Regions from separate parts of the Homo sapiens genome. Here region 1 is linked to region 2. A link means that fine-mapping ties the variant in region 2 to the plasma level of a protein whose gene starts in the linked region. Region 2 holds a variant in brackets. A gene starts in the other region. All regions are shown on one strand. Distances are between the middles of the regions.

Region 1 (3,001 bases), 110 Mb after region 2:
CCTGAAATCAGGACACCCTTGCTGTACATGGGGGTCATCTTGAGGTTCTCTGCCAAGGATACTGACCTCTATGCCTGCCCCCAATTCTGCAGCTCAGGCACCTGGCTTCACCGCCAGGCCTTACCATGTGGAGAACAGGGGGCCGGGGTGGGGGGTCTGGGAGCCAAGGAAGGAGTGAAGCCCTCCAGACACCAACATCGCAGTCCTCGCCCCCTCCCTACAGACCCCATCCAGCCCAACTCCCCATGTGCAGCTAAAGCCACGCGCCCTCCTACCATACAAGGTGCAGGCAGCCCTCCCGCCTTCTTCAAAGAGGCATCTGCTCCGGCTCACTCCACCCTCCTCCCCCAGTGGCCTAACTAGTCGCCGGGTTCCAACCCTATCCCTTCTCCAGAGGTCATCTGGCCCCACCCAGCAGCCCAAACCAGTAGACCGGCCCTGCCCCATCACTTTGGTTTCTCCAGCATCCAAAGAACGTGGAGGGTCACCCCCCCAAAACAGCTGTCAAGGTCCAACAATTAAGCCATCTGTTGCCGCTCCCTGGGACTGGGAGAGGTGAGGTCGAGTTTCTTGGCGAGTTTCCTGCGTGCAGCCCCCACACCACAAAAGCCCCCGGTGCGAGCCGGAGCCCAGCGCGAGACGGCTGGAAGGGCGCGGGGAGGGAGCCGCTGCGGGGTGCAGGCGGGGAGAGGGGCGGCGGCTCGAGGCGCGGCCGGCGGGCGGAGGGTACGGAGGCGCCGGGAGAGCGTTCTCGGGGCGCGCTGCCAGGGTGCAGGAAGCCGGAGCGCGCGGGAGGGAGCGGGGAGCGGGATGCCGATTTCGGCTGGGGGCGGGGAGGCCCCTGATTGGGGCGCGGGAGGCGTGATGTCACGTCCGGCGGGGGAAGCCCTGCCTCGCGCACCCTCCGCCCCCGTCCCCGCCCCCACAGGTGGTGCCACCGCCCTGGGCGCTGGGCGTGGGGGGCCGCCCTCGGGGACCCCGGCCGCGGCCCCGCGCTGCCCGGCTCCGCCGCCTCCCGCCGGGGATCGATAGAGTCGCGCGGCCAGGCGGGCCCTCTGGGTCCCTAAGAGCCAGAGGAGCGCCCAGTGCGCCCCGGCCCGCGCCCCCGCGCCGCGCCCCGCCCCGCCCCGCCCGGTGCTCCCAGTCCCTCCCCCACCCCTGCGCTCCCACCCTGCCCCGCCCCTCTCCTCTCCCGCGGCCGCCTAGGGGCCGGGCCGGCGGCGGGGGAGGCGCCGAGCCGGGACTGCGCTAGCCCGCCGCGCTCTGGGCTGCCCGAGCGAGCGTTCGGACCTCGCACCCCGCGCGCCCCGCGCCGCCGCCGCCGCCGGCTTTTGTTGTCTCCGCCTCCTCGGCCGCCGCCGCCTCTGGACCGCGAGCCGCGCGCGCCGGGACCTTGGCTCTGCCCTTCGCGGGCGGGAACTGCGCAGGACCCGGCCAGGATCCGAGAGAGGCGCGGGCGGGTGGCCGGGGGCGCCGCCGGCCCCGCCATGGAGCTCCGGGCCCGAGGCTGGTGGCTGCTATGTGCGGCCGCAGCGCTGGTCGCCTGCGCCCGCGGGGACCCGGCCAGCAAGAGCCGGAGCTGCGGCGAGGTCCGCCAGATCTACGGAGCCAAGGGCTTCAGCCTGAGCGACGTGCCCCAGGCGGAGATCTCGGGTGAGTGAGGGCGCGGCGCCGGGAACCCGGGCCTGGCCGGGCTTTGGGCTCCGGACCCTGGTCTTCCCGACGCGGCTACTCGCCCCCGGCGCGGGATCCTGCCGCCTGCGCCCCGCCGCCCGGGCCCCGAATGGCTCCCTGCGCTGCGGCTCCTCTGCAACCCCACGGCCCTCGCCTCCAAGCCCCGCGCCGCACTCCCTCGCCAGGGTCTCCTCCGCCCCGCTCGGTCGTCCTCCGCCCCTCCCCGCCCCCCGCACGCCGGCTTCTTCCCTGCGGAGCTGATCTCGCCGGGCTGCGGGCTCGGGGCGCTCCTCCCGGGCCACGGCTGGAGCTGGGCGTCTTCTGCCCGCCGCTCGGCCCAGCGCGCCTGCAGGCCGGGAGTCCCAGCCCCGGGGCCGGCTGTCGGGGCGCTGTGGGGCTCGGCGTGGCCGGGCTTTCGGGGCGCCGCTGACGGTGGCCGCGGACCCCTTCTGCTCTGTACAGACCTCTCTGGGAGGCGTCTCCGGTCCTGCCCGGGGATTCTCGTAGGGTCTCCAGCAAAGGCAGCCTAGGTGGGTTTTATAAGCTGACCCCCTCGGGGGGTAGTGCGGAGGGGTGGGGAGGGAGCTGGGCACTTATCCGCGGGCGGAACGCCGCCGCCTCGTAGAGATTCCTGTCGAAGAACTTGTACGCGCCGGCCCCCGCCTGGCGCTTGGGCAGCCTCGTGCCGCGAGTCCAGCTGCAGGTGGTCGGCGCGTTGGATCCCGCCCAGGGGCCGTGTCATTTCTTTGTAAGAACAGCGGCCCTCTTGGCGCCCCCTAAGCCCTGCAGCCGCCTGCGGCTCTGCCTCTTCCCTCCCTGTGGTCCCGGAGGAGCTTTGGGGACAGAAGTGTACGGGTGGGTGGAACGGTGGGCTCCGTGTGCTAAGGAACTCTTGGAACCCAAGCTTCACCTTTCCACGTGTGGGAACCAACCTCGGTCTGTACCGCGTGCCAGGGACCCAGTGGGCAAGAACAAAACAGACTAGGTTCCTGCTCTGGGGGGCTCCTCTGAAACCAGGGGAGTGGGAGTGCGGGTGGAGGGCTACTCAGATGGGGACTCAGCGCAGAAATGCCCATGGTCCTGGGGATTCTGAGCAAGAAGGATCCGTGCATCTGGGTGAGGGGGGTCTGTGGCCATGCCTTGCCGCGGGGGGCGGAGTGGTGGGAGGAGGCAGTCGGGCTCTGGACCCCTGCCCCTCCAGGAGGAACAGAACCCACAGACAGCCCCTTGCCCTTGGTGGATCTCCCGATGCCCCCAGCCTGAGGTTCTTGTAAGGGCCCCCTGACCGCCCCCCACAGAAGGAACAGAACCCGCAGACAGTCCCTTG
Region 2 (2,500 bases):
GGGGGCGGGACCCCTGCAAAGTCAGTGGCCAAGGTGAGGAGACCAGGGCCTCTGGGTGGGCTCCCAGTGCCATCACTGAGGGCCTGGGTGACTTGGGCAGGTGGCTGGGCCTGCCTATGCCCCCATTGTCCTTTCTATTACAGGGACCATGCACCCACTCTCAGGTGTAGCATTGCTGCTTCTGAGGTTGCTGCAAATATAACGCTTGGTGTACAGGCCTGGCTCCTCCGGAGGAGGCTAAGGTGGCTACTGCGTGAGGAGACCTTGACCACGCAGCTGAGCATAGTGCAATTCATGGCCATGCATCAAGGCTCTAGGAATCGCCACCACTGCACCTTCCTTTAGCGAGCCTCTTCTCGGCATGTCAGCGCTGTGCTGGGCACTGACAACCCTGGGCCCTCCCTCTGCCCAGCTGGCCCTCCCCACTATCCAGCCTGCACCCCTCCAGCATGCTCAGGACCTGCCGGGAGGGAGGGACAGCATGCACACTCCCACCCTGCCAGAGCCTTCCTCCTGTGCTCACTGTCAGCCCAGCGTGGTCAGAGAAAGGCCCAGCTCCGTCAGGCCGGCTCCATGAGGACTCCCAAGCCGTGGGCCTTCAGGGGCCAGCAGGCCAGATCCCCACCCCCTCAGCTGTCCTTCTCCCCAGGCGCCCCATCCCGCGAGGGGCCCAGCCTGCCAACCTCTAATCCTCCCCGTCATCTGACCCAGGCTCCACCCTACACTGGCTTTGCCTAGCCACTCTTCTGAGGCCCAAAAATGGACACAATCATTTATAGAGGGTTCGACAAGCCAAACGCAATGGGAAGATGACCTCACGGCGCCCACAGGCTCAAGCTCCCAGCACACACAGTGCACCCCACGCATTCCGGGGGCAGTGGCCAGGGGGCCAGGAGCAATGGTGCCATGCTGGAGGCCCTGGCAACCCTTCCAATTTATTCTCATACCCTCCTCACACCAAGGCCACAGGCCATGGGACCTTCAAGAAAAAGCTCCAGACAGGCCAGACACATGCACCCTGCCTGAGACAGCATCGGGGACTCAGCCCAGGAGGCACTGGGCCTGTGTCCAGGCAGGATTTGATGAATGAGTGATGGCAGAGAACAAACAACACAAATCAATCCACCATCAGCCTGCGTCAGGCCCAAATCCCTTGTTCAAAAACATTCACTAAGCACCGACTGGGGCCAGGTAACATCCTCAATGCACACACCTGGATGTGCCCTGCCGTGCCCTCAGGGATCAGCCAGACCAGTGGTGGAGGCAGAAGGGTCAACAGGTAACAACAGTCAAAAAAGAGCTGGCTTGGGGACCCTA[C/G]AAGAGTGCAGGCTGCCCTTGACCACACTGTCACCCTCACAGTCTGGATGTTTGTTTGGGCTGGAAGTGGATGTGGGAAGGCCGGGGGTGAAGGGTGGATGCAAGATACGGGCCCTTCTTCCTACGCCAGGACGCCAGGACTCTCCCAGCCTCCCAGCACAGCTCCTGCCATCCTTGCTCAGGAAACGCCTTCCTGTAGCCACAGGGAAACTGGAATTGCCCTATTACCCACTGATTTCACCAAGGCAAGGTAGGTATAGTGGTGGGGCTGCCTGTAAGAGACTAGGATTCCAGTTTCATTGACAGTGGGAGTTAGAGGCGGCACTGATCACCAACAGAAGACACTGAGGATGACCCTCCAATGATGGCACAGACTCTACAGGAAGGCACACAGCAGAGGCTGCTGTGGGTTGAGGCATGGGGCTTCCTGCGAGCAGGGCCTGCAACCCAAAGGGAGGGGAAGGCTACTTTCAGAGACCTGGCCTGGATGCCTGTCATGATGGTCATGCTGCCTTGGTTTCTGATGGGGGGAGGGTCCCTAACTAGTCTCCGGCAGGCAGAGAGCAGCTGGAACACTAAACAACTCCAGTCCCAGGAAGCCCGGCATGGGCAAGGTCAGCTGTTGGCCAAGACCAGCATGCCTAGCTGACCAACTGTCAGCCAACTGCCCGTGGCCACAGAACAGGGGCTCAAGAGAGAGGGATGGTGTCTCAGGAGCTCAGTGATACATCACCACCTCCTTGGAGGGGACACAGCCCTTGCCTACTGCCCCGAGAATGACATCAAAGATGCTGCTGCAGAGAAAAGACAACCAGGGCAAAGGAGACACACCAAGAGCCTTGGGGAGCCAGGAAGGGGTGGGACACCAGTGGGAAGGGGGCAGGGAACACAGCTCAGCTAACCTCCCTTCCCATTCATCTCCCTGGCCCTTTAGGGAAGGAAGCAGGCTCTGGCCCAGGGCTGCCTGCTCCAGGCACACAGATGGATTACCCAGTCATGGCAGCCCGGAGCAGGGGTGGCTGCATCTGTGCTGCCACCCCCCCACCCCACAACCTGAAGTCTTCCCAGCCCCCAGCCAGCTATTCCTGGGGCTTTAATCCCTCCTCCTCCTCCTCCTCCTCCTCCTCCTCCTCCTTCCCTGGGGTGGGGGGTTGGGGAGCTGGGTCTGGGCAAACCTGGACTT

Alleles and levels. Positions count from the first base shown, and alleles are read on the strand shown. Strength reflects both the effect of a copy and how common the allele is.
As copies of G replace C in region 2, the plasma level of the protein whose gene starts at base 1,232 in region 1 goes down (weak association).

What was found. PIP is the posterior inclusion probability: the model's chance that the variant is causal. Protein levels are from antibody-based Olink assays in UK Biobank. Linkage for the fine-mapping came from a reference panel and not from the study's own genotypes, which makes the PIPs less certain.
Region 1: it holds the start of GPC1, and the variant in region 2 is fine-mapped to the plasma level of the GPC1 protein (UK Biobank, PIP above 0.99).

The regions. Positions count from the first base shown.
Region 1 is chr2:240,434,432-240,437,432 of GRCh38, forward strand. It overlaps GPC1 (glypican 1), which reads left to right and starts at 1,232. Exons shown (of 9, transcript NM_002081.3): 1 at 1,232-1,653. The coding sequence starts at 1,488. RefSeq lists enhancers at 295-871, 2,605-3,001 and silencers at 701-1,360, 1,421-1,480.
Region 2 is chr2:127,103,052-127,105,551 of GRCh38, forward strand. The region is part of intron 1 of BIN1 (bridging integrator 1); the gene reads right to left. Among named protein-coding and RNA genes, the nearest start is that of BIN1, 2.9 kb to the right of the region's middle. RefSeq lists an enhancer at 679-1,231. The variant C/G (reference allele first, on the strand shown) is at 1,318.